Linked DNA regions of Homo sapiens. The protein of the gene in region 1 interacts with the protein of each later gene in a biochemical or structural test. Each region holds a gene or a part of one and is shown in the gene's direction. Other genes may lie near its edges.

Region 1 (7,932 bases):
TATCACATCCCTTTTTAAAAATGAACATAATTCACCAATCCTAAGACAGATCTTGAAGCAGATTGGGAGTTCAGTAAGAATATGTTGTATTGATTTAAATGAAATAAACAATTGAATATTTAGAATGACCTTCTCCTCGTGATTCCTTCAAGTGATGAACTACAGTGTGTGGTTTCAAATTTGTGATTCGAATTATTTTAGTATCTCATCTATATATTTTTTGAGAGTGAGAGAATGTGTGTGTTTGAATGTCAAATTCCCTTCCTTCCTACTGGGAATTTGGTCATTGAATAACTTAATGTATCCCAAGGTTCAGTTATCTGTTGACTGTGTTGCACTGTAGTAATTATAATTAGCACAGTCCTCAGACCCAAGGAGCTTAATAAAATTATTTGTATATGTCATTTTCGTTCTTGAAGTTAAAAATTGTTTTCATATGTAAGAAATGATTTTCAACCTGAGAAAGCTGATTGCCAAAAAATGGATTATTAAGAGATGATTATTCTTAATATCTGTCATCTACTTTCTCTGTGAAGATAGGAAATAAATGGTAGAGAGGTAAATAAATGGTAAAATACAGTGTTAGAGCTCCTTTACAAGGAAACTGTGATAATTCCTTTTTAAATCAACTTCCAAATCTGCTTTGTAAATTCAGAAATGTGTAAATTCAGTCTTTTTAAAGCAATGAATAATACTTTGCAAATTATATCATGCACAGTAAAAAGTAGAAAGCAATAACAGGAGTAATATGAACTCAAAGATGCTCCTTATTTCATTCTTATTCTTAAATAAAGTATGTTTTATGGCTGTTTACAAACCAGTTTTCAAATGACTGGTATGATTTTGACTTTCTTGAGTCTACCCAAGAGCAAAAAGGTTGGCAGTGGTGTGGAGAGAAATACAGTGGACTTGCATATCCCATTAAATGGTTGTTAAATGTCTTAACTAGTTGAGAATTAATTGTATATTAGCAGTTGTTATTTTTGTTTTGTTTGTTTTGAGATAGAGTGTCATTCTGTCACCCAGGCTGGAGTGCAGTGGCACGATCTCGGCTCACTGCAACCTCTGCCTACCAGGTTCAAGCAATTCTTCTGCCTCAGCCTCCTGAGTAGCTGGGACTACAGGCGCATGCCACCATACCCGGCTAATTTTTGTATTTTTACTAGAGATGGGGTTTCACCATTTTGGTCAGGTTGGTCTCAAACTCCTGACCTCAGGCGATCCACCCACCTCGGCCTCCTAAATTGCTGGGATTACAGGTGTGAGCCACCGTACCTGGCCATATTAAGTTTTTTGAGAGAATTAGAAAACTGGGTTTCCTCAACTCCAAGATGTTATCAGTTGTAAAATGTACCCGTATGTTTTATACCACTAAGAAAGAAAAATAAGCCTCCAATTAAGCAACATGCCATCAATTGTAAAATATAACCAGAGGGGGGAGAAAAGTAGTGTTTAGCTGGGATACCTCCCTACTCCCTGAAAAACAAGTCAGGGTTTTATTAGTAAATGAAAATGGGAGAATGGATATTTGGTGGCAGTCATGATAACCATTTCATTTCTATATCATTATTAACCTCTTAAAATATCCATCTTAAGTACATTATGGCAAAGCTTCTTAAAATGGTGGCATTGGAATCTCAAGAAAGTCTCTTCTCATCCTACTCCTTACACAGTTGAAATTAATTGTTGCTGCCTCCTTTCTGTATCTTTTTCTTTGGCTATCATTTCTTATCCTTTTAATCAATAAATTCAACAATTTGATACAATCAGATAATTATTTCCTAAAGTTTGACTTAGAGTTAAGCATTGTACTTAAAAAGCTACAGGGTAGTCTTTCAATTAAAATTTATCTTTTAAATTCCATAGGGACCAAGGTATTTGTTGATAGCTTCAGGTCTGATAACTTAAACAAAATGTTCTGGCATCTTGAAAAACAAACTGCATGGAATTTATTCCAGCTTCTCTTCCAAAGGTGTCATGGCCCCCCTTCCTTAGGTCAATTTTGACACTTACCTATCAAGTTTTCAGAAATGCAATGAGTTCTTGCTTCTTCTGTTGTGTATGTGTTAGTGATAGGAAATTTTTTGGTCTCTTCTTAGATAATAAATATCATTGGAATATTTTTCAAACTGTGACTAAAATGTCTTTGGCATTCTCCATTGTACTTTTTATATATGTTTATGCCCTCCCTGTCTTCTGTATCTGTAAGGAATGGACCTGACATTAAGACTTCTCCATAGAGCACATGAGTAAGGATTTACTAACGAACTACATTAAACCCTTGATAGCCCTGAACAAGCATCTAAAGAATCACTCCTCTCTGTCTTTAATAAGTCATGGTAAAAAGTATGGGTAGGTAAGTTTATGACTGTATTTTAATGTTTATGAATATGATTAAGATGGTCACACTTTGAACAGACTCACAAAATAATCTTCAACTTGTTAGTGGTTTCATTTTTTTGAAAACGGAAATTCTAAAAATTACTTATGGAATGTCTGGTGTTTGGGGGATGATGTCAGAAATGAATCTGTTCTGTTGGCCTCAACCCCACATCAGACTCATCAGAGTCTGCATCTCTTTTCCTTTTTCTGCACATCTACTTTTGTTTCTTCCTAAGTGCCCAGTAATGTAAGGAAGCAAGTTCTAGTTCCCCTGTAGAGCTATAAAGCTATAAAGGAGACTGAACATTCACATTACTTTGCAGAAAGGTGCTTATGAAAATTCAGAGACTTGGCGGCTTTGGAAGATGGCTATGTAACATTAAAGTATGTTCTCTTCTCTAATGATTTGATCATTTTAACAGTATGCATTAACCCACAGGATTTCCAGTAGACATTTTCAATTGAATAGGAACGGCAATAAAACAAATTACTAAAGTGACTATAATCCATTTATATGTCTATTATTTATATGTAATATATATATACATTTACAGATGCTATATTATTTTGCTTGTAGGTATCATAACGTGATTCTAGTTCTGCCTCCTTAACTATTCTTATTTTTATTTTTTTTAGAACACTGATATTTGCATTTAATGGGGAACAAAAGATGAAGAAGGAAAAGGAATATATTCACTAAGGATTCTATCTGCTTACTGCTACAGACCTATGTGTTAAGGAATTCTTCTCCTCCTCCTTGCGTAGAAGTTGATCAGCACTGTGGTCAGACTGCATTTATCTTGTCATTGCCAGAAGAAATCTTGGACAGAATGTAACAGTACGTCTCTCTCTGATTGCGATGGAAGGTGATAAACTGATACTCCTTTATTAAAGTTACATCGCACTCACCACAGAAAACCATTCTTTAAAGTGAATAGAAACCAAGCCCTTGTGAACACTTCTATTGAACATGACTCATGGAGAAGAGCTTGGCTCTGATGTGCACCAGGATTCTATTGTTTTAACTTACCTAGAAGGATTACTAATGCATCAGGCAGCAGGGGGATCAGGTACTGCCGTTGACAAAAAGTCTGCTGGGCATAATGAAGAGGATCAGAACTTTAACATTTCTGGCAGTGCATTTCCCACCTGTCAAAGTAATGGTCCAGTTCTCAATACACATACATATCAGGGGTCTGGCATGCTGCACCTCAAAAAAGCCAGACTGTTGCAGTCTTCTGAGGACTGGAATGCAGCAAAGCGGAAGAGGCTGTCTGATTCTATCATGAATTTAAACGTAAAGAAGGAAGCTTTGCTAGCTGGCATGGTTGACAGTGTGCCTAAAGGCAAACAGGATAGCACATTACTGGCCTCTTTGCTTCAGTCATTCAGCTCTAGGCTGCAGACTGTTGCTCTGTCACAACAAATCAGGCAGAGCCTCAAGGAGCAAGGATATGCCCTCAGTCATGATTCTTTAAAAGTGGAGAAGGATTTAAGGTGCTATGGTGTTGCATCAAGTCACTTAAAAACTTTGTTGAAGAAAAGTAAAGTTAAAGATCAAAAGCCTGATACGAATCTTCCTGATGTGACTAAAAACCTCATCAGAGATAGGTTTGCAGAGTCTCCTCATCATGTTGGACAAAGTGGAACAAAGGTCATGAGTGAACCGTTGTCATGTGCTGCAAGATTACAGGCTGTTGCAAGCATGGTGGAAAAAAGGGCTAGTCCTGCCACCTCACCTAAACCTAGTGTTGCTTGTAGCCAGTTAGCATTACTTCTGTCAAGCGAAGCCCATTTGCAGCAGTATTCTCGAGAACACGCTTTAAAAACGCAAAATGCAAATCAAGCAGCAAGTGAAAGACTTGCTGCTATGGCCAGATTGCAAGAAAATGGCCAGAAGGATGTTGGCAGTTACCAGCTCCCAAAAGGAATGTCAAGCCATCTTAATGGTCAGGCAAGAACATCATCAAGCAAACTGATGGCTAGCAAAAGTAGTGCTACAGTGTTTCAAAATCCAATGGGTATCATTCCTTCTTCCCCTAAAAATGCAGGTTATAAGAACTCACTGGAAAGAAACAATATAAAACAAGCTGCTAACAATAGTTTGCTTTTACATCTTCTTAAAAGCCAGACTATACCTAAGCCAATGAATGGACACAGTCACAGTGAGAGAGGAAGCATTTTTGAGGAAAGTAGTACACCTACAACTATTGATGAATATTCAGATAACAATCCTAGTTTTACAGATGACAGCAGTGGTGATGAAAGTTCTTATTCCAACTGTGTTCCCATAGACTTGTCTTGCAAACACCGAACTGAAAAATCAGAATCTGACCAACCTGTTTCCCTGGATAACTTCACTCAATCCTTGCTAAACACTTGGGATCCAAAAGTCCCAGATGTAGATATCAAAGAAGATCAAGATACCTCAAAGAATTCTAAGCTAAACTCACACCAGAAAGTAACACTTCTTCAATTGCTACTTGGCCATAAGAATGAAGAAAATGTAGAAAAAAACACCAGCCCTCAGGGAGTACACAATGATGTGAGCAAGTTCAATACACAAAATTATGCAAGGACTTCTGTGATAGAAAGCCCCAGTACAAATCGGACTACTCCAGTGAGCACTCCACCTTTACTTACATCAAGCAAAGCAGGGTCTCCCATCAATCTCTCTCAACACTCTCTGGTCATCAAATGGAATTCCCCACCATATGTCTGCAGTACTCAGTCTGAAAAGCTAACAAATACTGCATCTAACCACTCAATGGACCTTACAAAAAGCAAAGACCCACCAGGAGAGAAACCAGCCCAAAATGAAGGTGCACAGAACTCTGCAACGTTTAGTGCCAGTAAGCTGTTACAAAATTTAGCACAATGTGGAATGCAGTCATCCATGTCAGTGGAAGAGCAGAGACCCAGCAAACAGCTGTTAACTGGAAACACAGATAAACCGATAGGTATGATTGATAGATTAAATAGCCCTTTGCTCTCAAATAAAACAAATGCAGTTGAAGAAAATAAAGCATTTAGTAGTCAACCAACAGGTCCTGAACCAGGGCTTTCTGGTTCTGAAATAGAAAATCTGCTTGAAAGACGTACTGTCCTCCAGTTGCTCCTGGGGAACCCCAACAAAGGGAAGAGTGAAAAAAAAGAGAAAACTCCCTTAAGAGATGAAAGTACTCAGGAACACTCAGAGAGAGCTTTAAGTGAACAAATACTGATGGTGAAAATAAAATCTGAGCCTTGTGATGACTTACAAATTCCTAACACAAATGTGCACTTGAGCCATGATGCTAAGAGTGCCCCATTCTTGGGTATGGCTCCTGCTGTGCAGAGAAGCGCACCTGCCTTACCAGTGTCCGAAGACTTTAAATCGGAGCCTGTTTCACCTCAGGATTTTTCTTTCTCCAAGAATGGTCTGCTAAGTCGATTGCTAAGACAAAATCAAGATAGTTACCTGGCAGATGATTCAGACAGGAGTCACAGAAATAATGAAATGGCACTTCTAGAATCAAAGAATCTTTGCATGGTCCCTAAGAAAAGGAAGCTTTATACTGAGCCATTAGAAAATCCATTTAAAAAGATGAAAAACAACATTGTTGATGCTGCAAACAATCACAGTGCCCCAGAAGTACTGTATGGGTCCTTGCTTAACCAGGAAGAGCTGAAATTTAGCAGAAATGATCTTGAATTTAAATATCCTGCTGGTCATGGCTCAGCCAGCGAAAGTGAACACAGGAGTTGGGCCAGAGAGAGCAAAAGCTTTAATGTTCTGAAACAGCTGCTTCTCTCAGAAAACTGTGTGCGAGATTTGTCCCCGCACAGAAGTAACTCTGTGGCTGACAGTAAAAAGAAAGGACACAAAAATAATGTGACCAACAGCAAACCTGAATTTAGCATTTCTTCTTTAAATGGACTGATGTACAGTTCCACTCAGCCCAGCAGTTGCATGGATAACAGGACATTTTCATACCCAGGTGTAGTAAAAACTCCTGTGAGTCCTACTTTCCCTGAGCACTTGGGCTGTGCAGGGTCTAGACCAGAATCTGGGCTTTTGAATGGGTGTTCCATGCCCAGTGAGAAAGGACCCATTAAGTGGGTTATCACTGATGCGGAGAAGAATGAGTATGAAAAAGACTCTCCAAGATTGACCAAAACCAACCCAATACTATATTACATGCTTCAAAAAGGAGGCAATTCTGTTACCAGTCGAGAAACACAAGACAAGGACATTTGGAGGGAGGCTTCATCTGCTGAAAGTGTCTCACAGGTCACAGCCAAAGAAGAGTTACTTCCTACTGCAGAAACGAAAGCTTCTTTCTTTAATTTAAGAAGCCCTTACAATAGCCATATGGGAAATAATGCTTCTCGCCCACACAGCGCAAATGGAGAAGTTTATGGACTTCTGGGAAGCGTGCTAACGATAAAGAAAGAATCAGAATAAAATGTACCTGCCATCCAGTTTTGGATCTTTTTAAAACTAATGAGTATGAACTTGAGATCTGTATAAATAAGAGCATGATTTGAAAAAAAGCATGGTATAATTGAAACTTTTTTCATTTTGAAAAGTATTGGTTACTGGTGATGTTGAAATATGCATACTAATTTTTGCTTAACATTAGATGTCATGAGGAAACTACTGAACTAGCAATTGGTTGTTTAACACTTCTGTATGCATCAGATAACAACTGTGAGTAGCCTATGAATGAAATTCTTTTATAAATATTAGGCATAAATTAAAATGTAAAACTCCATTCATAGTGGATTAATGCATTTTGCTGCCTTTATTAGGGTACTTTATTTTGCTTTTCAGAAGTCAGCCTACATAACACATTTTTAAAGTCTAAACTGTTAAACAACTCTTTAAAGGATAATTATCCAATAAAAAAAAACCTAGTGCTGATTCACAGCTTATTATCCAATTCAAAAATAAATTAGAAAAATATATGCTTACATTTTTCACTTTTGCTAAAAAGAAAAAAAAAAGGTGTTTATTTTTAACTCTTGGAAGAGGTTTTGTGGTTCCCAATGTGTCTGTCCCACCCTGATCCTTTTCAATATATATTTCTTTAAACCTTGTGCTACTTAGTAAAAATTGATTACAATTGAGGGAAGTTTGATAGATCCTTTAAAAAAAAGGCAGATTTCCATTTTTTGTATTTTAACTACTTTACTAAATTAATACTCCTCCTTTTACAGAATTAGAAAAGTTAACATTTATCTTTAGGTGGTTTCCTGAAAAGTTGAATATTTAAGAAATTGTTTTTAACAGAAGCAAAATGGCTTTTCTTTGGACAGTTTTCACCATCTCTTGTAAAAGTTAATTCTCACCATTCCTGTGGTACCTGCGAGTGTTATGACCAGGATTCCTTAAACCTGAACTCAGACCACTTGCATTAGAACCATCTGGAGCACTTGTTTTAAAATGCAGATTCATAGGCAGCATCTCAGATCTACAGAACAAGAATCTCTGCTAAGTGGACCTGGAATCTTCCATCTGCATCTTAACATGCTCTCTAGGTGTTTCTTGTGTTTGAGAACCATGAC
Region 2 (7,932 bases), on another chromosome or scaffold:
CGGCGGCTCGGGCTGCGCCTCCCGTTGCCGTCGCTGCTGCGGCTTTGTCTCCCCCGGGGAGGGGGTCCCGGCGGCTCTGCGTTTTCGGGCTCTCGGTCCCGGCGCCGTCGTTTTCCGCCTCCTGCGGCCCGGGCCCCCGTCTGGGTCCGACCCTGCGGGGCCTCGCCTTGGCGCTTGGGCTCCTGCCCGGCAGGTTTCCGCGCGTCCCCTGTCCCCGACCCTCGGGCTGGGCGCTTCCGCCTCCAGGTTTTCTCTCCGTGTTTCTGTAGCTCCCCGGCCTCGTCTCTCCGGGGCTCCTCTCGTCTCGGCGTCTCTGTCTGTCGTCTATCGTTGTGTCTCTGGCTCTGCGTCAGTCTCTCTTGGGTTTTCTCTTCGGGCCTCCGCTGTCTCTCCGAGTCTCTGATCCAATCCCCCACCCCTCGTTTCTCTCTCTCTCTCTCTCTCTCGTCTCTCTCTCTCTCTCTCTCTCTCTCTGTCTCCCTGTCTCTCTCCATCCCTCCCTGTGTCTCGTCCCCGCCGGGTTCTCTCTAGCTGGGCGTCTCAGTGTCTGTGTCTCTGGCACTCTCGGACTGGCCTCGTGTCTGCGCCCGGTGGCGTCGGTCGTTGTCTCTCGCCAGAGTTTCTTCCCATCTCTGGCTCCCCCGGACTCTGTCTCTGCCTCCTTCGTCTCTGTCGGGTTCCCAGAACACCCGGGCCGGGCGCCCCAGCGCTCCTGGGTCCCCTGGCGTCTTCCCCGCGGCTGAGCCCATCTCTTTTTCTCAGAATCGGGGTTTTGTTCTCAGACAAACGAATCCCAATCGAAGCGCATCGAACCCGAGGGCCCCAGATCGGGCGCGACGGGGTCCGCGCGGGAGGAGCCCCCCGGACGGGGCGGGAGCGTGGGGCCTGGCAGGGGAAGGCCGGGCGCGGGGACTGCACCGGACCCACCCCGGGACGCTGCGCGGGGCGCTCGGTGGGTGCCGGCGGCAGCGCCTGGGCACAGAGAGGGGATTACGCGACGGGCCGGCGACAGCGGCTGGGGCGGCGGCCGCGGGGACCCCAGGCTGCCGGTCTCCGCCGGCCCTCCCTGACCCGCTGTCCCTCCGCAGGCGGACGCCGCGGGCATGGACTATTCGTACGACGAGGACCTGGACGAGCTGTGCCCCGTGTGCGGGGACAAGGTGTCCGGCTACCACTACGGACTGCTCACGTGTGAGAGCTGCAAGGTGAGCGGCGAGCGCGCGGCAGGGGTGCGGCAGACGGGCGCTGCGGGGCCTCGCTGACTCTCAGCTCCCGCAGGGCTTCTTCAAGCGCACGGTGCAGAACAACAAGCACTACACGTGCACCGAGAGCCAGAGCTGCAAGATCGACAAGACGCAGCGCAAGCGCTGTCCCTTCTGCCGCTTCCAGAAATGCCTGACGGTGGGGATGCGCCTGGAAGGTGCGCGCCGCGCGGGCCTCGACCCCTGACCCCCCACAGCCTGAGGGGGTAGGGGGTGGGGGTGGGAGAGGGGCTGAGGGGATAGTACCATTGGCCTTCGCGAAGGCCCCTCGTGCGACATTAGGGCCCAGTCGCTGCAAGAGAACCGGGCGCTGGCGCTGGGTGGGCCTCGGGCGGGGAAGGGACGCTGGCAAGGCCAGCCTGGGTTGGGCTGAGAAGTATCCAAAAGTGAACCCTATGGAGATGACTCTTTCCCCAGCCCCTGCCAGGGCCCCAGCACAGGGTCGGCAGAGCTCCTCCCTCTGTGAGGAGGTCCCCATGCCCCCAAAATACCCAACCCCAGCCAGCAGAGGCCAAGTCCCAGTGCCCGCACTGTCAGTCAGGCTGGGTGACATTGGGCAAAATCCTTAACCTCTCTAAACCGCAGATTTCCCATGTGAAACATGGGCTTGGCCGGATGGAGCGGCTCATGCCTGTAATTCCAGCATTTGGGAGGCTGAGGCAAGAGGATCACTTGAGCCCAGAAGTTTAAGACCAGCCTGGGCAACATGGAGAAACCTTGTATCTATAAAATATAAAAAAGTAGCTGGGCGTGGTGACATGTGCCTGTAGTCCTAGCTACTCAGGAGGCTGAGGTGGGGGGATCACTTGAGCCTGGAAAGTCGAGGCTGCAGTGAGCTATGATCACACCACTCCACTCCAGCCTGGGCGAGAGGGAAACCCTGTCTCAAAAAATAAGTACATAAAAATAAAAAAGAAAGAAAAGAAAAGGCAGAAAGAGAAAGAAAGAAAAGAAAAATGGGCTTAACGGCAGCGCCTTCCTCCAGTGAGTGAGTGTGGGGATCGGTGCAGGCAAGCTGAAGGTGCCTAGGCGTTCATTGCCGCAGGTTAGCTGTCAAGCCCATCACGCTTTCCATTAGGATCTGCCCACCACCACCGCCCAGCCCCCACACATTCAGCTGCCCATCTGCTTGTCTGTCCGTCCATCCAAAGGGCTCTCTGGTTTATTGGCTCAGCCAGTGAGATTCCTTCCCGTCATGTTCTTAGCCAGGCCCTGAGGGGGCCGGGCAGTGGGGGACAATTGAATTGCCCCCAAGAAACCCAGGCCCCTCTTTGCCTCCCTACCCTCAACCCCAGCTCTCAGCCCAGAGAGGAGGAGGTAAGTTTTGGCAGGAAAGATTTGAGCTTCTGGAGGTGGCCGGTCACTGGACTGTGTGCTGAACAGGCAGTGGTTGATTAAGGTCTTGGAACAGTGTAGAAAGCCCCAGGTGGCTCTGAGAGTGGTGGACCACATGCCCTGCCACCTGGAGAAAGGACTCCTGGATGGGAGAGGGGACATCCTGTCCTGTCCCCAGAGCCCATGCCCCTAGTGCCAGGTCCCAAGGGGCCAGATAGCTGGCTGTTGTGGGCAGTAGAAACTCCCGTGCAGCCTGCGAGCAGCACAGCGCTGCCCACCCCAGGGGGCAGGAAGATTGGCCAGGCAGCCCCCCAGCCATCATCCCTGCTGAGCACCACCACCCCCTCTCTCCTGCTCTTTCCCCTCGCCCAGATCCCAGGGTGGGGCCCTGTCTGAGCAGGGGCGGGGGGCACACTCCAGCTGCAGAGATGTACCTGTTGGGTCTGGCTGATGACACATTCCTCGCCAGGCGGAGGAGCTTCTAGTCGGCAAGAGAGGTCCCCTCCCCCAGCATAGAGCCTTGGCCAGCTCTAAACTTGGCTTCACATTCGCAGCCAGTGAAGGATACTTGAGTCATTTTGAAGCAGGAGCTCAACAGTCAGGCAGTCAGTCAACAAACAGCTGGACCCTGGGGCCAGCGGTGAACAAGGCTGACCAGGGTCCCCTTCCGGTCACCATCTCCCTGCCAGGCCTTATGCTAGACACCTGAGCCCAGAACTTAGCCCGCAGGAGCACATGGCATGATCCACTCAGCATGATAAGAGTGGGCAAGGACAGGGCACCTGGGGCAAGGACAGTAGAGCCCGTTTGCATGAATCCAGGAGTGCTTCCTGGAAGTAGTGACATTGAGGCTGGGTGTTCAGCAAGCACAAGAGAAAAAAAAAAGTTTGAGTCAGAAGGAAAATGAAAGGCAGGGTGGAGGAGGAAGGAGATGTGTCAAACAGAGGAGTGGAGGTGAGTTCGGTGGAGTGGAAGGAGAGGGGTCTTAGCAGGGATTGCCTGAAAAGCTGAGCAGGGCCTTGAATGCCAGGCAAAGGAGACTGACTTCCCCTGTGGTCAGTGGGAGCCATGAAAGGGTGTTGAGCAGGGGAGAGAGCGGTCAGATTTGTTTGGAAAGGATCTGTGGTGGGGCAGCATGGAAGGGGGCTTAGAGAGGGTGAGTCTGACCCTCTGCCCCTGCCCACAGCCGTGCGCGCTGACCGTATGAGGGGTGGCCGGAACAAGTTTGGGCCGATGTACAAGCGGGACCGGGCCCTGAAACAGCAGAAGAAGGCACAGATTCGGGCCAATGGCTTCAAGCTGGAGACAGGGCCCCCGATGGGGGTGCCCCCGCCGCCCCCTCCCGCACCGGACTACGTGCTGCCTCCCAGCCTGCATGGGCCTGAGCCCAAGGGCCTGGCCGCCGGTCCACCTGCTGGGCCACTGGGCGACTTTGGGGCCCCAGCACTGCCCATGGCCGTGCCCGGTGCCCACGGGCCACTGGCTGGCTACCTCTACCCTGCCTTTCCTGGCCGTGCCATCAAGTCTGAGTACCCGGAGCCTTATGCCAGCCCCCCACAGCCTGGGCTGCCGTACGGCTACCCAGAGCCCTTCTCTGGAGGGCCCAACGTGCCTGAGCTCATCCTGCAGCTGCTGCAGCTGGAGCCGGATGAGGACCAGGTGCGGGCCCGCATCTTGGGCTGCCTGCAGGAGCCCACCAAAAGCCGCCCCGACCAGCCGGCGGCCTTCGGCCTCCTGTGCAGAATGGCCGACCAGACCTTCATCTCCATCGTGGACTGGGCACGCAGGTGCATGGTCTTCAAGGAGCTGGAGGTGAGTCTCTCCTCCCGCCCGGCTGGCCCTGCATCATGGTCCTCCCGGCTGCCCAAGCCTTAGCCCGACTGTCCTTTGGATAGGGCCATCCTTCCCACTGGCTTCAGGCAGTACCTGGGGACCCGGAGGCCACCCTGGGGACATTAAGGAGCATTTCCACTTATCACAGCCTCCTGGGTCCCCGCTCCCTCCCTCTCCTTCTCTCCTCCTTGAGCCTCTGCTCAAGGAGCCACTGCTGCTTTGATCTCTGCCTCTGTCTCTTCCTACTGTGTCTCTCCCTTGCATGTTGTCTCTCTGCTTCTTGGTGTCTCTGCAACCCCTTCAGCCTCTGGGGTTCCCTATTCTGGGGCTCTCTCAGTACTCATTTCCCTCATTCTCTGAGACCCTGGGCTCCCTCAAAGGACTAGCTGAGTCCTTGGGAGACTGTCTTGCCTCCCCAGGCTTCAGCCTAGTGTTGGGAAGGGGGTCCGGCCCATCCTGTCCTCCCATTCAGGGAGGCTGGCAAGGATTGGCAGTGTCACACACAGATGGGGGCTCTTAGTGTTTTAGAGTTTGGGGCATTTGTGGGCCATTCTCCTTCCCAGCTAAGGTGAAAGATCCTCCTGCCTCTGCAAATCTTGCGTATGCTGGATGGTCATGTGCATGTGTGTGGGTGTTCAGGAAGCTAGATAGGTAGGTGGGTGGGGGATTCCAGGGTCTGCCACTGATCTTCCCTGGCGAGGCAGCCTTCCTCTATGGCATGGCCTTCTTTCCCCCTGGGTCGAGGTACCTGATGCTACAGTAATCAGGAAAGCAGCAGGAGAAACTGAGGCTAGACATAGGAAAGAACTTCCCAGTCTTCCCACCTAGTGGCTTGAAGAGCCTGAGGCCCCAGAACTGCCCCTCCAGTGCCCTGGCTCTCTGAGACCTCCCTAGAGGCCCCTCCAGCTGACCAAGGCCTGCCCCTCCCTGGCCTGGGTTCAGGCACTCTTTCACCCAGGGCTATTGGTGTTTAGCTTTCCCAGGCTGACCCCCTGGCTGTTCTGGGGCTGGGTGTAAACAGCAGGGCCCGTTGCCCCCACTGCTGGGGCCACTGCAGCCTTGAGCAGCATTGTCAATGCTGACGCCACTCGGGCCTGGGCTTCCTCCAGGGGCATGAGGCCGGATGGGCTGGGGGCACTGCCTGCCCTGGCTGGTAGGTGGGGGTGGGTGCTCCGAGCCCTAGGGGCATCGCGGGACTGGGGCCTGGGCCATCTGGGAGTCGAGGATTGATGGTGGTGGCTACGGCTTCCACCGTGGAGCGCCTGTCATGGCTGAGGCCTGGGGATGTACCATGTGTCTGTCATGGGGTGGGTTTCTCACCCCAGCCCCTTCTCAACACTGCCCGCCTCTCTGGTCCGACCTAATGGATGAGGCAAAAGGCAGGGTCTTGAATACTCCCACCTGCCTTCTGCTCATGGCTGGAGGCCCTGGTGGGGATGAGGACCCCAAGCATCTTGGGTTGGTTGCTAGCTTCCCTCCAGACTTCCCATGCACCCCCCGTGCAGAGGGGAGGAGGAGCAGGGCATTCCCGGCCTTCCAGAACCCTGGATTGAGGGGCAGGGCACTTCCTCTGGCTGCCTTCCTAGTCTCCCGGGGATTTTCACGCAGGATGGGAAGGGCTTTTGTCCCAGCTTTGCTGAGTGTTTTTTCCTGCTTCTGGCTTCTCCGTGGTCCAAACCTTCCTGCTTCCCCTTCTCAAAGTCTTTGAATTGAGCCCGGGATTATGAGCAGTGGTCACCAGCTTCTCTAAAGGGGCCTTGCAGATAAGTACCAGCCCAGCCCTTAGAGCGCCTCTCGTAAGCCATGTGGAAGTTCTTTTCCACTGGTCCAGTGGACCCTGGGCTGGTGTCTCTTTGCAAAGTCCAGAGGTGAGGAGACAGAAAAGTGGGAGGGGTGTGGGTGACTCCGGCGTCTCTTCTAGCTGATCATTCATTTCCCCACCTCCAGACAGGACACATCTTAGCAGACAGAAGAGGGGGCTCTCTGGCTCTGAGAGTGGAGCAGCCCTTGGGCTGGACACTGGGGACATTAAAATCATCTGGACCCAGGAAGCTGCCAGCCTGGAGGAGAAGTCAGACATGCACTTAGATAATGCCAGTGCGAGGTGCCCAGGGCTCTGAGAGCCACGGAAGGGGCAGAGGGGACCCTGGGGGGAGAGCAAACAGCTCTAACTAAGGAAGTCGGAGAACAGTTCTGTGCCTTTCTAGAAAGTAGAGAAGGTTCAGGGAATTCCAGGCAGTGGGCACAGCAGAGGCGAAGGTCCCGAAATGTGAAGAGGCATCGTGTTCCGGGAGTTCCAATGGGCCTGTGAAGCAGGGCTGGAGAGGTTGGCAGGGCCAGAGCAGAGCCTGGAGCAGGAGTGGGTCCTTGGGCAGTGGGTGATGGATGGCTGCGGGGCTGGCTGGGGCTCCAGGTTCCGGGTCAGGGAGGGGCTCCCCTGACAGAGCTTGGGCTCTGAGCAGAGGCCCACTCAGCCCTCTGATGCTGATGACATCTTGCTGCTCGGGAGGAGTCCTGGAGTCTCAGCTGAGCTCTCAGGGGTGCCAGGGGCCCAGTTGTGTCCGATGCTGAGCTCCAAATGCCCTCTTGGGGTCTTCCTCCCCCATCTTCTTTCCCAGCTGGTATGGGGGTCCCTCCGTCTCCATGTTTCCATCTCACACCAATCCCAGCATGGTAGATTCGATAGTAGCACAGAAGTGAATATCAAAGACTAGAATCAGAGAGGCCTGTTGTCAAGTTCCAGCTCTGTCACTTACATGCTGTATGATTTTGGGCAAGTGACTTCACTCCTCCGGGCCTCAGTTTCCTCGTCTTGAAAATGGGAGGAGTTGAAATAATGTCCACCCCATTGGATTGTGGTAAAGGGTTAGTGAGTAAGGACAGGGGAAGAACTGAGCGCGGGCAGTTTCGGAAGTGGGGTCGCAGCACCCTTCCTCTCTTCCCCTTAGCTACACTGTTTAATCGACGCCTGCAGGCTTATGCAGGCCTTGGCGGGGAGGCAGCAGGGAGAGACACATTGGACCCAAGCTCCTCTGAGCACACGATTGTTCTGGGACCGTCTGAGGGTCACTTTGTCCTGCGCTTATAAAGCAACTTTTTCCCTGTGAGGTGGAAGAAACTCACCTGTACCTGCTGCTTGGTGGGCAGCAGTGCCCAGGGCCCAGGCAGTCAGCCTCTCGTCACTTACTGCGAAGGACAGGCTGGGAGGATGCAAGGGAGGACCCGGGGGGACGGTGGGGGCCAGGAGTGCCCAGTGACCCATTTTGACATCCGTTCACCCTCAACATCCAGCTCCGAGGCCCCCACTGACAGCAGATTTAACTGCCCAGATAGACGGTTTCATTTAAGCGGCAGTAACTGTCAGTCCTGGGCTGACAAATGACACCTCACTGACCACTCTGCCGGCAGAGCGCAGTGGCCAGCCCGTGGTGTGTCAGCCACCAGAGAATTACACAGCCCACCGGCCTTCACAGCCAGACCAATCGGACCCCAGGGGGCTCCA
Region 3 (7,932 bases), on another chromosome or scaffold:
CCGCCCCCCCAGCAGCTGTTCTCAGGCCTCTCAGCCTGTCTGATTTGCTTGTCTGGCCTGGGGAGAATGAGGTGGGAGAAAACCAGGCCAGGGCAGTTGGTGTTGGAGTGAAGAGCAGACGGCGGTGGGGAGGTCAGGAGAGAATCTGCTGGGCTGGGGATGGTGTGGGCATCAACTGTCCCATTGCTGCAGGCTGGTCTTGGGGCAGGGAAGGGGATGGGGGGCCATAGCAGTGCTGGTCAGCCAGGCTGGCCTGGGAAGTGGTGCCCAGGCACTACTAAGAGCCAGGAAAGCCCTGCCAAGGTTGTTGGCCTAGTTCCCTGTCATCAGCCGCCTAGCAGCCCCCACTGTGTCTGCAGGTAAGGGGGGAGGGTGGTAGCACATAGTCAGCCCCTGGTGTTCCCATGCTTCCTTCCTCTGTGCCCCAATTTTAGGGCCATGTGATTTGGGGCTATGTGACTCATGTCTGTAAGGTGCTTGGGCCAGGAGCTGTGGGCACCTTTAAATGCCAGCCAGTCTCATGTGCCGGAGTTTGGGGTAGGGCTAGGTAGGATTGTGGAATATGGGAGGAGGCAGGGATCTGTCTACCTAGGGAGGCATCCTCATCCATCCTTGGCCCTGGACAAGAGAACTTGAACGTTGGTAGGGGCCTCAGGACGATGCTGCGTGGCCCCTTGGGAATCTGGGATTGTCCTGGTCATAGTTCTTATCTTGCACCCAACACCCTTAGCTGCCCAGGCTTTGGACATGGATAGCCCCTACCCAACCCAGCCCTGTTCTGCCTACAGTGATGGGCATGGAGCCAGACACTGGGGAGGATTTGGCCAGTGAGGGCTGCCCCTGCTGTCTGGGTCACCCCTCCTGGCTGCCCTCTTGGAGCTGAATAACAGAAGGGGAGGGGTTAGTAACCCGGACATAGTATTGAGGCCAGACAGACAGAGCATTGATGGGAACAGACCCCCTTTGTCATGCCATCTCTCCCCAGATGGGGGGTACCCAGAATAATGGGCTTTTGGGGCCCTGGGGACTCTTCTCCCTGTATTCAGGGTATCTCCCCCTATCTCAGGGAGACACCTCCTACTGTGCCCAGCATTTGTGACTCTTCTTTGCACCCCCTGCCTTGGGTCCCTGGCCCTGGGATTGTTTGGGTGGAGGAGGGGCAGTGGCTGCTGGCAGAATGGGGTGGAGGGGGGAGCGGAAGCAGAGGGGGCGGGGGAGTGGCCGGCTTTGAATATCCTGTTGACCCCAGTTTCCTCTGCCCCCAGCTTATGTCCTCTTCCCTCCCTCCTCTTCAAGCGTTAACTCCTTCCTAACTCGGGGGGAGAACGGGGCCAGGCCGCCCAGGGGCAAGAGCTTTAGAATCAGGGTGACCCCCACCCCTACTCCCCAAGCACAGTCACGGCACACATACAAATGTGATGGTTTATCATTGTATCTTTGTGGTTTTGAAGGTGGGGGTCCTAGGAGTCCAGAGGAGTGATGGGGTGCTGGAGGCTTCATTGGCAGCCTCCTGCCCTGAGTCTGGCTGGGGAGTCCCAGTTTTCTTAAGACTTGAATCCTGCCAGCAGTGGTGAGGCTGGGAGAGGCTCTTAGGAGGGACGGTGAGGCAGGGTGGAGCTTGGTACTAAGGATGGCGACCTAGGTCTCTAACTGCCCCTCCCCTCTTCTCTCTCTAGCCATTGAGACCCAGAGCAGCAGTTCTGAAGAGATAGTGCCCAGCCCTCCCTCGCCACCCCCTCTACCCCGCATCTACAAGCCTTGCTTTGTCTGTCAGGACAAGTCCTCAGGCTACCACTATGGGGTCAGCGCCTGTGAGGGCTGCAAGGTGAGTTGAAGGGGTCATTGGGAAGGACAGCTTGATGAGGTCAATGGGATGTCCCCACTTCTGTGTCCTGGGAGTGTGCAGTTGGGGGGTGTCCCTGAAGTTGCTGCTCTTCTTTCTCTGTGGAAGTTGGCAGCAAGCAGGGACACCTACCACAGTTTCCCCACAGGTCCTCCCCCATAAATGTGCAGGGCTCCCTCAAACCAGAGGTCCCCTCCTGCCTCAGCTCCTTTCCCTGTCTCTATCCTCCAGCTGGCAGGGCGTACGCCTGCTCTGCCACCGCTGCCCAGGTTGCCATGGTGAGCTGGCTGCCGACTGGCTCTTGGCTGGGGACCCAGGAGGCCTCCCCCGGCGGCCCTGCCTGAACCTCACCATGGCAGCCTGGCAGGAGGCAGTTAGGAGCAGGCACCCTGCCTTAGCTTCCCCTTCAGGTGCCCGGGCTGTGGGCTCCCCAGTGTCTGGCTGGATTTCCCCATCCTCACGTTAGGTGCCAGGGTGCAGGTATACCTGGTCCTTAGCAGCCCTGCGCCCGGCTTCTCCTCCTTTCCCTGGGGCCTGAGCCTCTGTGTGCGTTTCTTCCTCCAGAGATTGGGGCTCAGAATCTTCACAGCTTTGGGCCTTGCAGCTCTGGGCTGCTCTTCAGCCTGGAGTAGCTATCCCCAGATGTGGGACGGAGGTCAAGGGCAAAGCACAAGGACTCAGGCTGTGTGTCTGCCTGTCCTGTCTGGTTGTTCCTGGTCTGTTCTTCCTCTGTCCGCCTGTCCCTCTGGTCAGCCTGTATGTGGAGCCCCTGGCCAGCCTGGGTCTGTGTCTGTGATGGGTCGGTGCACACCTGTCTTGGTGAACTCACATCTTTCTGCCTTGCTCCTGAGTGCATGTGTGTGTTCGCCTCCATTTCTCTGGCCAGCCCGTGTATCTGCCTCCTGGCCTCTTCGGGCTTGTCTTCTTTTCCTGTGTTCTGAGTTCAGGGGTGTGGGTTCCAGATCCCTGGCTGTTGCCCAGTTAGCCCCATGTCTTCCTATTTCTGACTCACCAGCAGCCCTGAGGTCTTTTCCCTGGAAGGGAGGAGTCAGGTGTGTGCTGTGGGTTGGGGGAAGACTCCTGCCCATCCTGCAGTGTTGAGGCAGGTACTGGGATTCTCCTGAGGAGGATCCTTTTAGGTGAATCATTCTCCCCAGCTTTTCTGGCCTGCTCAGGTAGGCGATGGGCAAACGCTTGGGGGCAGCAGCTGGCCTGGCCCTCCTCCCCTAGACTGAGACCGTAGCCAGGCACTGCTCCCACTGTGGGTGTGGACAACCTGACTCCCTCCCCTCCATACCCAGGGCTTCTTCCGCCGCAGCATCCAGAAGAACATGGTGTACACGTGTCACCGGGACAAGAACTGCATCATCAACAAGGTGACCCGGAACCGCTGCCAGTACTGCCGACTGCAGAAGTGCTTTGAAGTGGGCATGTCCAAGGAGTGTGAGTGCCATAGGGCAGGGGCCGAGTCCCGCCTCAGTTGGGGTCTCAGATGCTCCTAAAGACCAAGGGAGCAGGGCTCTGTGGATGTTTGTGCACATGCATGAACACGCATGCCGTGGTGTGCGGGCTCACGGTTGAGGATGGTTTGTGTGTAGCTGCAAGGACCTGTTTGCGAGTCTGGCTGGCTGTGTGTCCACGGGCAGGTCTGTGCTCCGGGACCGTGTATGTGTAACCATTCCTGTTTCTGCACGTCTGGCTGTGTGTGCTTGCGTATGTGTGTGTGTGTGCATGCTCCAGGATGGCTTTCTTCCAGGCCGTGCTTGGTTTTGGGGTGGGGCTCAGAGGCATAGGCAGTCCCTTCTGATTGTGAGTCTTAGGGGAGGGGCTTGAATTCTGAGGGGTGCTTGGCTGGACTTATGTGTGTATGGGGGGGTGGAAGGGCTGGCACAAGGATCCAAAAGCCATTGTCTAGTTAAGCCTGGGATTCAGAGTTGGAAGAAAGAATTGGGACTTCTCAGATCCCAGAGGAAACGGGGTTTCCACTTTGGGCTCAGCTGAGGCCTGATGGAGGGAGGGAGGGAAAGGCTGGACAGGGAGACCCTCTTGTGTTGAATCATGGGTGTTGCCATGGTGACCGGTGATTGATGATGTCAGAGATAAATGACGCTGACAGACGCCTCCTTGTCTGCGTGGCCGTTGCCATGGAGCCTGAGCCTTGGGGGATGGGATGGGGGAGGGGGCTGCAGGACCCCCTAGCCCTTTGTGGGGAGGGCAGTGGGGAGGGGGCACGGGTGAGATGGTTCTGACTGTTGCACGAAGAGCCCCAGACAGGAATGGAGGGGACTGGAGTGTCCTGCCACAGGAGGCTGGGGGTGCCTTGTCCTGAGCCCAGGAAGTGGCTCCTGCTGCAAGAGTGGGTGACAACTCAAGACCCACAAGCCTGGAACCCTTCGCTTAAGGGCTGTCACCTCCTCCTCTCTGTTTGTGCCACCTTCTGCTCTTTTCATGGCAGAAGGACCAGGGAGGGGACCCCTTCTCCCTCCCACCGCCAACTCCCCTTCTCCCTCCCACCGCCAACTCCCCCTCTCCCGGCTGCTCTGTGCCCCGGAGCTGAGCAGCTGCCATTTCAATAGAATTAAAGCTTCCGAATGATAAACGTCTTGTCACAGCTGCAATTTTCTCTTCCCAAATTATCCCCCCACTCTCCCTCTCCCTCTCCCTTCTCTCCCCTGCACTTTATTGAATTTGCAGAATCGACATGAGTGATCTCCAAATTATGCCAGCTACCCCCACCTCGCTACCCCCTCCCTGAGCCCCTCCCCCACCCTCCCTTCCTCCCGCGTCAGCAGCCACCACCACCAGCCCTGTGAGTGATTGTGTGTCTGGATAATCGGCTGGTAACGACCCCATCGCTTCTTTAAAGCCGAGTGGTGTGTGCGGCTCAGCGCCCCTGGTGATTTGTCAGCTCCCCAGCTAATGGGCCAAGAGATTCTCCCCGCCAGGTCCCCCACTCTCAGGCTGGGGAGCCCTACTCCCCACTTGCCCCAGGAGCTGCTCAGAGCCAGTCCCAAGGGACCCCCAGGGAGACTGCAGCTGGGAGGGCTGGGTGAGTGGAGGCGGGAGAAGGACCTTCCTGGGGAAAGAGGAGGCAGAGCACCTAGGAGGGCACCGTCGCCTGGAGTGTGAGCTGGAGTAGACGCGTGGGGGATAGCATGCGGCTGGCTATGGGGTGGGGTGGGGGGTGTGTGCAGGGCCACAGCTGTGCTCATGGGGCTTCTGGGGCAGAACTTGATGTGTGGGTTGGGTGGGCATGGAGGGCTGGAGTGCGTGGCAATGCCTTGCCTGCCCGTGAACGCGTGCTGTGTGCGCGTGCTTACAAGCCTGGGTGACCTCCTCAGCAGCTGGCAGCTCTCTGTCAGGCTGGGGGTGGACGAGGCCCTGAGCAGCCTGCAGCTGCCCTCTTAACCCCCTCTGCCCTCCACAGCTGTGAGAAACGACCGAAACAAGAAGAAGAAGGAGGTGCCCAAGCCCGAGTGCTCTGAGAGCTACACGCTGACGCCGGAGGTGGGGGAGCTCATTGAGAAGGTGCGCAAAGCGCACCAGGAAACCTTCCCTGCCCTCTGCCAGCTGGGCAAATACACTACGGTATGGCTTTCCCCCGGCCTGCAGGGTGGGATTTGCCCAGGGCCACAGGGCCAGGATGGGCCCCTCTCAGGCACCCCTTCTTGTGCCAGGCAAGATCTCTGCGTCCTTCCCTTCCCCTCTCTTCTCCCTCCTCCTGCTGCCTCTTCCCAAGGAGCTCCCAGGAAGTGAAGGCTGGGTAGAGGGCAGGCCTGTGGGGGCTGGAGCCAGGCTGAGAAGGGGTGCCATGGAGAAGAAGGCCCTCACTCTCCCTCCTCCCCCAGAACAACAGCTCAGAACAACGTGTCTCTCTGGACATTGACCTCTGGGACAAGTTCAGTGAACTCTCCACCAAGTGCATCATTAAGACTGTGGAGTTCGCCAAGCAGCTGCCCGGCTTCACCACCCTCACCATCGCCGACCAGATCACCCTCCTCAAGGCTGCCTGCCTGGACATCCTGGTGAGGGTCTGCACCCTGGCCCCCAGGCACTGCCCCTGTGTCCTGGGTAGATGTCCTTCCAGCCAGACAGCCACCCTCCTAAATGTCTGTCTGCAATCAACCTGTCCAAATGCCCACCGCCCAAATGTCTGCCCTTCCTCTCCCCATATGTCCACCTGTCCACTCGTCTCCCTGTCCACTCAGCCACCTAGCAGCCAGATGTGCAGGAGCTCACCTGTTCACCCATACACATATCCAGCCACCCAGCCATCCATCCATTTAGCCAGTAATAAAGATTCACGTAGGAGCCAGGTGCAGTGGCTCATACCTGTAATCCCAGCACTTTGGGAGGCCGAGCGAGGCAGGAGGATCACTTGAGGCTGGAAGTTCAAGACCACCCTGGGCAACATAGTGAGACCTTATTTCTGCAAAAAACTAAAAAGATTCACCTAGGATCCTCTGGCCAGTGTTCGAGCTGGGTGTCAGGAACCCAGCGGTGAATGCACCACCATCCCCTCTCTTGAAAACCTTCCATGTGAGGCAAGAGATAAGTCAACAGAGGTTGCAAAACTGTGATCAATGCTTCCTGGAGATTGGGGGAGGGCTTGTGACTGCTTGGGCCTGAAGGATGATGTCTCAGAGGAGGTGACATCTAGGGGTTTGTAGAGGGGGAGGTGAGAGGGTAGCCCTAACTCAGGAGCAGGAAGTGAAAGACTTGCTGCTGTGAGGCCATGCTGAGCTCAGGGGACTGCCGGGCACTCGGTGAGGTGAGCCCGAGGGTAGACTGGGCTGGAGGCTGGATGCAGGGGGTGGGGGCAGGAAGAGGTGGTGGGAACTGCCAAAGCCTAGGCTGGAGGGAGCACTCTCCTTCCTGCTGTCCCTGACAAGGGCTCGGTCCACCTGTTCCCTCTTGGTCACCTCCAGGGTGGGGAACCTGGGATTTGACGAGACTGTCATTTCTTTTTATGTTTTTCTTTTTTGAGATGGAGTTTCACTCTTGTCACCCAGGCTGGAGTGCAGTAGTATGATCTTGGCTCACTGCAGCCTGCAACTGCTGCCTCCCGGGTTCAAGCGATTCTCCTGCCTCAGCCTCCTGAGTAGCTGGGATTACAGGCACCCGCCACCACACCCGGCTAATTTTTGTATTTTTGTAGAGACGGGGTTTCACCATGTTGGCCAGGCCGGTCTCGAACTCCTGACCTCAGGTGATCCTCCCGCGTGAGCCGGCAGACTGTCATTTCTCCATGGGCACCTCTGAATGTTGAGGCGGGTGATGGGTGGGAGGTTTAGATTGTGCTGCCTGCAGGGGCTCCCATCCCCATGCCGTGGATGCAGGAGGTGCCGTCTGGGTTCCTGCAACCACATTCAAGCCAATACACATTTACTGAGCGCTTGTTGTGTACCTCATCCTGGGAGCTGTAGGCAGCAGCCCAGTGTTCCTTAGCTCCTAGAAATTCTAGGTCCCCTCTACATTCTTTGCATGTAGGCAGGATGACCTGGACCTGCACTATCCAGTACAGTAGCTGCTCACCACATGTGACTCTTTAAATTTAAATTAATTAAAATTAAACTCAATTCAGTTCCTCAGTTGCATTAGCCACATTTCAAGTACTCAGTAGACGCATGTGGCTGGTGGCTGAGGTATGGATGGTGCAGACGTAGAACCTTTCCATCATTGTAGAAAATTCTATCAGACAGCATTGCTCCGGCCACCTGCCAGGTGGTCCTCCGGGAGTGCTGGTGCGGAGTGCTGGTGCCGAGTGCTCAGAGTGGGTTCGGGTTCAGTCCCTGAACCCAAGCATCCTCTGCACCCAGATCCTGCGGATCTGCACGCGGTACACGCCCGAGCAGGACACCATGACCTTCTCGGACGGGCTGACCCTGAACCGGACCCAGATGCACAACGCTGGCTTCGGCCCCCTCACCGACCTGGTCTTTGCCTTCGCCAACCAGCTGCTGCCCCTGGAGATGGATGATGCGGAGACGGGGCTGCTCAGCGCCATCTGCCTCATCTGCGGAGGTGGGCAGGGGGCCTGGGTCTGGGGGCTGGGCTGGGACGGGGGTGCAGCCCTGGAGTCTCTTCCA
Region 4 (7,962 bases), on another chromosome or scaffold:
TAAGGGAAAGTGAAACCAGAAGCTGGGAGCATTTGGGGAATCTAATACTTGGCACATATTAAATGCTTAAAAAAAAAAAGTGTCAGGCTGGGTGCGGTGGCTCACGCCTGTAATTCCAGCACTTTGGGAGGCCGAGGCAGGCGGATCATGAGGTCAGGAGATCGAGACCATCCTGGTTAACACAGTGAAAGCCCGTCTCTACTAAAAATACAAAAATTAGCCAGGCATTGTGGTGGGTGCCTGTAGTCCCCGCTACTCGGGAGGCTTAGGCAGGAGAATGGTGTTAACCCGGGAGGCAAGCTTTCAGTGAGCCAAGATCACACCACTGCACTCCAGCCTGGGTGACAGAGCAAGACTCCATCAGGAAAAAACAAACAAACAAAAAAAAAAAACAGTGTCAGATTAATGAATAAAATTAGGAGAAACCCTGAAAGACAGCCTGGAAAAGGTGTCAGCTTCCTTTTCCATTTCTCACCTCAGCTACCAAAAGCAAGACTCAGCCAGGCCTGGTCCCTTCCCTGGCTCCCTCTTTTGTGACCCATAGCAATAGCGCCTGATGGGACAAAGGGGAGAATTAAGTGGCCACTTTCTCTTACCAGGTAATTGCTAATTTGCCAGTCTCTCATCTCCTGCATCAGCCTCCCAAGTAGCCAGAACTGAAGGTCTGCACCACAACACCCAGATAATTTGTGGGTTTTTGTTTTTGGTTTTTTTTTTTTTTGAGATGGAGGTCTCACTATGTTGCCCAGGATGGTCTTGAACTCATGACCTGAAGAGATCCTCCCACCTCAGCCTCCCAAAATACTGGTGATGTCAGTCAGCCACCTTGCCCAGCCTGCTCTCCAACTTTCTTTCCTCCATTTGCACCACTCTTTCTGATTGGGAAACCCCTAGGAGGGAGAAACATCTGAGCTTTGAGTTCTCTTGGCTGGTAGTACCTCAGTTTCCTCTGCTGTCTTTCCAGAGCACCCCCAATAAGTTCAGCTCTGTCTGCAGAGTCTAGAGGTATATGCTGGACATGTCATCACTTGCTGACCTAGGGTCCAAGAGGTCAAGATGAGATAGAGGAAGGGATTTACTGAGGCCCAGGCCACAGAGCTTGTTCCATGGTGGCTGGTAGAGGGGCCTATCTCCTGTTTCCCCAAACTGCTAGAGATGTGTAAGGCTTTTGAGCAGGGGTAGAGGATGCTGTGTGGAGTTTTAGCTGCCAGACTTTGAAAAAAACCTCTTCAGAAAGATATCTGGATACCTTGGTTCCTAGGGGTCGTATCCTCAAGAAATCTTAGGGTGCTTCCTAGCAACAGTCTGGAAGGAAGGGAGGGAGAGATGGAGGGAGAGAGGGAGGGGCCTAGGCATGGCTGTTCTGATGGGAGCCCAGAGAACAGGCTGTTCCTGCTACCTCCTTAGCAACGGAAATCTCAGCTGGAGGGGCCATCAGACATATCCTCTTGGAGGGTCTATCCAGCCTTATTCATGCCACCCCTACCCTCCTCATAGATTCGGGGAATGCTCTGAAGCAGAGGTGGGGAATGGGAGGGGACAGCCCTGGTGGTGGTGGGGGGTTTCATGACAAGGACGGAAAAGGAGCTGAGGATGAACTCAATCTGAGAAGAGCTAGCAGCTTCAAGAAATGGGTGGGCAGGGTGAGTGGGGTGGGAGGACAGATGAGGCAACACAGGGACAGTGGCTATACGCCCAGACACGGGCTGGATCCTGGCACCTGGGGAGAGGCCTGCTTTGAAAGCAGTGTGCCCTTCACTTTGCCCTGCCCAGACCTGTCACCAGTCCATACTGGGAGCCCAAGAAAAAGAGAGAGGTAAAAAGAAGATGGGGGTGGCCGGGGACGGTGGTTCATGCCTGTAATCCCAGCACTTTGGGAGGCCAAGGCAGGAGGAGCACTTGAGGCCAGGAGTTCAAGACTAGCCTGGCCAACATGGTGAAACCCCTTCTCTACCAAAAAAACAAAACAAAACAAAGCAAAAAAACAAAAATTAGCTGGGCATGCTAGCACATGCCTACAATCCCCGCTACTTGGGAGGCTAGGACATGAAAATCCCTTGAACCCAGGAGACGGAGGTTGCAGTGAGCCAAGATTGTGCCACTGCACTCCAGCCTGGGCAAAAGAGCAAGACCCTGTCTCAAATAATAATAATAATAATAAATTTTAAGAAGGAGAAGATGGGACTGGTAAACCCTTGTCTTTGAGTGCTCCACTCTGCCCCTCAGGAAAAAAAAAAAGTGGAACAGGAGGCACTTCATTTTCTATGGCTCTGGGTTTAGGATTTCAGAAAGTCGTCACCACCCAACATTATAGGGCCTTGCATCAAAGAGAGATATGGTGGGGAAAGCCAGAATGGAAGAGAGACAAAACCGTAGCACCTTCCTCCTCCCCCTCTGGACACCATCACTCCTGCCCTGATCCAGATTACCGCTGGCCCTCCCCACTGCCTCCTAGTTCTGCCTTTGTGATGCAGAGTATAAATGTATCTCATGCATTGGGATTCCCTCCCAGCTCCTTGAGCAGCCCAATCCCAAGGGACTAGTTCCATACAGGGTAGAGTACAGACCCTGAGCACTACATACTGCAGCCTTGCTCCCCAGGGTTCCGGCCAAACCTGATCACCGAGGAGGTGGCATCGACTGGCAGACAGCCACCCTCAGTGCACCTCATTCCACTCACTGCACTGACTCTGCACACTGCAGCCTCCTGCCCCACACTGCAGCTGTTGCTTGTCTCCTGTGAGCCCAGACTGAACACAGGTTCGCTTACTGCATGGAGGCTCCGTACGCTGCAGCCTCAATTCCCCATTACAGCTGCCACTGCACACCACAGGCTCCCTTCACCCATGGCATGCCCTCAACACCACCACTGCACTCTGCACGCCATAGGTTTCATCCCAGCTGCTCTTCTCATCTCCATGGTTCCAGGGACCCCAAGAGAGGTACCCTCCCCTCCGCCAAGCATTACGAACTCCAGTACCCCCTGTGAAAGAAGTGGTTCCAACAGCACTGAGGATGCAGGTGGCTGAGACTAAGACATGAGCAAGGGCAGCCCAACTTGGGTAAGCTGTGGCTCAGAATCCCACACTCGCCAAGTGACTCTGCCCAGTATAAACTGGGCGATTAGCCGAGCAGCTCCCCCTAACACACACACACTTACACACACACACACTCACACACACACCCCTCCCCAAGAGCAGACTATGTAGCCAGGGCCCCACCCTGAGAGCCGTGGGAAGGCTGTGGCCCCCGCTGGTAAAACTGGGCTAATGACAGCAGGGGAACCGGCGGGGCCAGGGGGGTGCTGGGGTAATTAGGGCTCGGCCTGGCGCTAGGAGATCCTGAGATGAAAGGTGCTCTGGCGTCACTGGGTTGGTTTTATGTCCATGAATGCAGGTGTGTGGTGTGTGTATGTGTGTGCTGGGGGTGGGGCTGGCATGGTGGAGACCTCTCCTTTGGGTTGGGTTAGGGGGTCCATTTGTATGCAGCCCACCGTCTTCCTTAGATTGACTCTGGTACCATTTGGATTTTTGTGGGAGCAAACATGGGGGGAAATACCACCACCCGGGAGCTAGGAATTGAGGGGGTATGGCAGATCTTGTCCCCTCCCCGAGCTCAGGAGAGGGAGCAGATTGTTGGGGGAAATGGCTGGTGACAGAGAATAGAAAGAGCCTATATGGAGAAGGGTGACGTTGGAAAAGGGAGGCAGTGGATCGGTATTGATGTTAGAAATGAGAGGGGAGGGAGGTAACAGGGAATGAACCCCCACAAGGATGAAAAACGTAAGATGATTGAAGTTAAAAGGACATCAGGGGTCACCTGCCCAGCCCTCGCAGCTGAAGCTTGAGGAAGCTCTGCCCCCGACAGCAGTGGCGATTTGTCAAGGTCACACAGTGAGTTACCGGCGGAGAAGGGACCCGAACTCCCAAACAAACTACACCTGCAAGCGTTTGGTGTTTAGACTTTCTCCCCGATGTATAAGGTGCAGGCTGCTCGTCGATACTTCCTCCTCCACCCTCACGGTGCACACCCGAAAACCCCCCAATTCTCCCGGCAAGCAAAGGCTATTTTTTAATGACATCTTTTCCAAAATATGTCACCAAGTACCCACTCCTGCGGGAGCCGCCCGGGCTGGGGAGGGCGAGTCCGAGCGGGGCGGGGCAGAGGCGGCCGAGGGGCGGCCGGACCTCTGGCGGGGGTCCCGGGGCGCGGCAGGGGGCGGGGGGCGGGGGCGGGCGGCGGCGAGGCGGCCTGCAGGGAGCAGCCGCGAGCCGGCCGGGCGCGCCGAGCCCGAGCCCCAGCCGGAGCGGGGCGGGGGAGGGAGGAGCCAGAGCGGCCGCCGCCTCTGCCGGAGGAGCCGCGGGGCCGCCACACTCGCCCCCCGCCCCCCCCGCGCTCACTCGCACTCACACCCGGGCGCAGGAGGCGGGCGGCCCGGGCCCCACCGGCCCCCCATGGACGCCCCCAGCACGGGGCGCTGAGACCCCCGCGTCGCTGCCCAGCCCGGTCCGGCGCGCCACGCCGAGGTAAGGAGGAGGGAGCGAGGGGGCATTAATATGCAAATGCCTTGCGATTGATTATGCAAAGCCGCGGGGCTCCGTGGCCAGCTCCCAGGCGGGCTAGGGGCGCCCAGGGGGTGCCTGCTGCCAGCCTCAGCCTTTCCTGGCGCCCCAGTGACCCTGTCACGAGCCCGGGAGCTTGCAACTGACGCCCTGGGGAAGGGAGGTGTTGCTAGGAGGTCGCTGGGCCCCGGGGTTCGCAGGCGGAGATGGCGTCCGAGCCTCCCCCTGGAGGGCCCGCCCGGCCTCTGTCCGGCCAGTCTGCTGCGCATTCCCGGGCCGGGCCCCGTTGCCGGCCGCCGGAGCTCCCCCGCCCGCCGCGCCGCGGTTTGTTTACGGTGCGCCGGAGGCCTGCCCCCCCAGCCCCCACCCCTAGCCTCTGAGGCCCGAGTGGCCTTTGCAAAGCTGCCTCCAGCTGCGGAGGGCAGTATGAGTGCGGTGGCGCGGGTGGGCTTGCACGGGTCCGGGGAGAGGGAAGTTCCCCCGCCTCACCCGCCTCCCGGTTGAGCATGGCTGTCTGGTTGCAACACTGCTAATTGCAAAAACGCGGTTGTTGGGGGGGAATGTGTGTGTGGAAGGGGTGTACTTGGTGGTGCCTAGATGATTAGGAGAGTTGCTGGCTGGGGAGGAGAGGGAGAAATGGACCTGTGTGTGTGTACCCCACCTTGTTTCCCTCCCCTTGCAACGTGTCTCTGGTGCCCCTTCTCCATCTGGGGCCCTCCCTTGTCCAGCGTGAAAGAAAGGCCTGGGGGGATGACAGGGGCAATTGAAAGAACCACCGTTCCAGGGGTGGGGGTGGGGGACACAGAAGGAAAGCCAGTGAGGTGGGAGCCTGCCCCTCAGTGCTGGCTTTGGCTCCAGGAGGGGGAGGGGATGAAGGGGGCTGTTGTCCAAAATGAGGGGGGAAGCAAAAGTGACACGCAGACACAGAGATATGTCCACACAGACAGCCACATGCACATCCAGGGACACCCAGGCAGACTCAAGGACAGGAGCTACTGGACACACCCACATGGGGACAAGGGAAGAGACAGGCTGCTGCTGCACCGTGGAGCTCTGAGGGGTGGGATATACCCATGGGAGACCAAGAGCATGGGGACCGATCCATGCACATACCCACGCACAGGGTCACACGTAGATGCTGTCACACACTGGGGCAAGGAGGAGTTGCTGTCACCCACACATAAAAAGTCACTGTCACATGCATGCATGCACACAGAGCAATTGCACACAGCAGCACAATTACAAAAGACCCTGTCACTCACAGGCACACACGTGCTCGCATGAGCCCAGTCACACAGACATCATTGCTTGCCGTGACAGTCGCTGTCACTCAGTCAGATGCAAACACAGTTACACACCAACACATGTATACACAACTTAGCAACAAGTATTTTCCTGGACTCTTTACTGTGGAGCTCTGAGGTTCTGTAGGCAACAAAACCCTTGCTCCCAAGAATATTAAATTTGGCTGTATGAAAAAGTGTTCCTGCGTAATGGTGTAAAGCATGCATTCCCAATGACATGTTCTTGGTCTCTATCGCTTGAGATACCACCCTACTAGACAGTGAGCTCTTGGAGACCTGGGAGAATCACTTAAAGAGCTCTGGATCCCACGCAGAGCCTAGCACAAGGGCTGCTCTGTAAATACTTGTTAGTTGATTGACTGTGGAACCTGCAGACACAGGTGCACTCATTTGCACATGGTCCCCTGAACTCAGGTGCAGAATGAGTTCACAAGGCCCAGGTCCCCACAGTTGCAGGTCCACACCAACAGTCGTGTCCACACAACCCCAGATACACACAACTGCAGCCTGTGCAGCCGAGCACACACTTAGATGCACACAATCACAAATTTTTCCCCTTCAGCTTCCTCCTCCCCTTTTTCCTCTAGGCTCAGCCACTGTGCGGGAATGGGCTGTTTTTTTTTTCTTTCTTTCTTTTAGAGGGACAGAGAAACAAGAGCAAAGACAGTGGGTTCAGGGGGGTTCCAGAGGGCCGAGTCATGGGCTCAAAGCAGTGTCCAGTGACTTCTAGAAGCTAGGATTCTCTTGACTGTTGGGGAAGGGGAGAGCTGCTCTCCTCCCTACCCTAAAAGCTCAGGGGTGTCTAACTGCCCCTGCTCTGAGTCATTTGCCTGGGTCTTTCCTGGGAACAGTCAGTCACTTCCAGCTGAGTTCCTGCGCCCCACCTTGAGTCTGGCCCTTTTTCCCACCTGTACCCTCCTGTCCAAACTTGGAAGCTTTCCTTAAGAGGCCATCGGCTGGCGAGTGTCTGTGTGAGTGATATGTACTTTTGACTTGGAATTTCTCTCTAACTCTGTCTCTCTGTTGCTCTGTCTTGCAGTGTCTGATTCTCCCTCTCTCTCTCCTTGTTTCTCTGCCAGTCTGTAACTCTCTCTCACCCTGTTGCTACCCCCGATCTACCCCTGTCCTTGTCTCAGAGCTGGGGACTGGCAGCAATGTTCTTCATACTTTTCCAGTTGTTAATACCCAAGCTCCGCCCCTCTGCCCCCCCTGCGCAGCCTCTGGGGTCAGCTTGAGGTTGGGGTGGGGGGCGGGGGGCTCAGCTGGCTGCTCAGGACTTCCTGCACTTCCTTAGTGCCGCAGCTGTGGCCAGCAAGTTTTAGGGGCTGGGAATGGGGGAAGGGGGGGGGGGTCAGCCACTGCCCATGCTGACCCCTCGGGCCTGCATGTCTGGAGACACCAGTTCTGTGGGCACCCTCAGGGTGCAGGCTGCAGCCAGCTAGCAGCTCTTAAACAAGCCATGAAGAGGCTCCCCCCACACTGGCCCAAGCTGGAAAAGAACCGCCCCCATGGGCAGTGGCGGGAGCTGGCAGGACCCTGCTGAGTTGGGTCCACTGCAGGGCTCACAATGGCCTTTCTCCACACCCCTGGCAGCTGAGGCCCACCTCAGAGATGCCCAACAGCTGTGTCCTTTTTGCCCAGCCTCAGGGCCTGGTTCTGAGGGCACAGCTGCCTAGACTAAGTATGTACTAAGCGAGGCCCTCCCACCCGTGAGTGCAGGTTCCAGCCTAGAAGGGGTACCTCTTCTGGAGAGGGAATTTGAGGAGGGGGAACTCAGGCAGGAGACATCGAGCCCGGGGGCACCAAGCACTTCTCGCTATGCTCCCCTCTAGCCTTGGACTATTTGGAGGTGGAGGCACTTGGCAGAGAACCCACAGGGCAGCTACAGAGGGGAAAGACTGAGGCTTGGTCTCAGGGAACACATAGCTGGATGAAAGAACAAGGCATTGGGCCGGGCACAGTGGCTCACACCCGTAATCCTAGCACACTGGGAGGCGGAGGCAGGCAGATCACCTGAGGTCAGGAGTTCAAGACCAGTCTGACCAAGATGGTGAAACCCCATCTCTACTAAAAATACAAAACTTAGCTGGGTGTGG

The links.
Region 2: the proteins of NRIP1 (region 1) and NR5A1 form a complex in vitro, tested with the Homo sapiens proteins (2 studies listed by BioGRID).
Region 3: the proteins of NRIP1 (region 1) and RARA form a complex in vitro, tested with the Homo sapiens proteins (4 studies listed by BioGRID).
Region 4: the proteins of NRIP1 (region 1) and THRA form a complex in vitro, tested with the Homo sapiens proteins (4 studies listed by BioGRID).

The regions. Positions count from the first base shown.
Region 1 is NC_000021.9:14,963,613-14,971,544, reverse strand, and holds part of NRIP1 (nuclear receptor-interacting protein 1), read left to right. Parts: intron 1-3,018; 5' UTR 3,019-3,352; coding exon 3,353-6,829; 3' UTR 6,830-7,932. UniProt on the Homo sapiens protein: Modulates transcriptional activation by steroid receptors such as NR3C1, NR3C2 and ESR1. Also modulates transcriptional repression by nuclear hormone receptors.
Region 2 is NC_000009.12:124,496,567-124,504,498, reverse strand, and holds part of NR5A1 (steroidogenic factor 1), read left to right. Parts: intron 1-1,088; 5' UTR 1,089-1,103; coding exon 1,104-1,205; intron 1,206-1,278; coding exon 1,279-1,420; intron 1,421-3,783; coding exon 3,784-4,409; intron 4,410-7,932. UniProt on the Homo sapiens protein: Transcriptional activator. Essential for sexual differentiation and formation of the primary steroidogenic tissues. Binds to the Ad4 site found in the promoter region of steroidogenic P450 genes such as CYP11A, CYP11B and CYP21B.
Region 3 is NC_000017.11:40,346,640-40,354,571, forward strand, and holds part of RARA (retinoic acid receptor alpha), read left to right. Parts: intron 1-1,676; coding exon 1,677-1,825; intron 1,826-3,144; coding exon 3,145-3,286; intron 3,287-5,270; coding exon 5,271-5,431; intron 5,432-5,691; coding exon 5,692-5,868; intron 5,869-7,662; coding exon 7,663-7,867; intron 7,868-7,932. UniProt on the Homo sapiens protein: Receptor for retinoic acid. Retinoic acid receptors bind as heterodimers to their target response elements in response to their ligands, all-trans or 9-cis retinoic acid, and regulate gene expression in various biological processes.
Region 4 is NC_000017.11:40,058,567-40,066,528, forward strand, and holds the start of THRA (thyroid hormone receptor alpha), read left to right. Parts: upstream 1-4,398; 5' UTR 4,399-4,526; intron 4,527-7,962.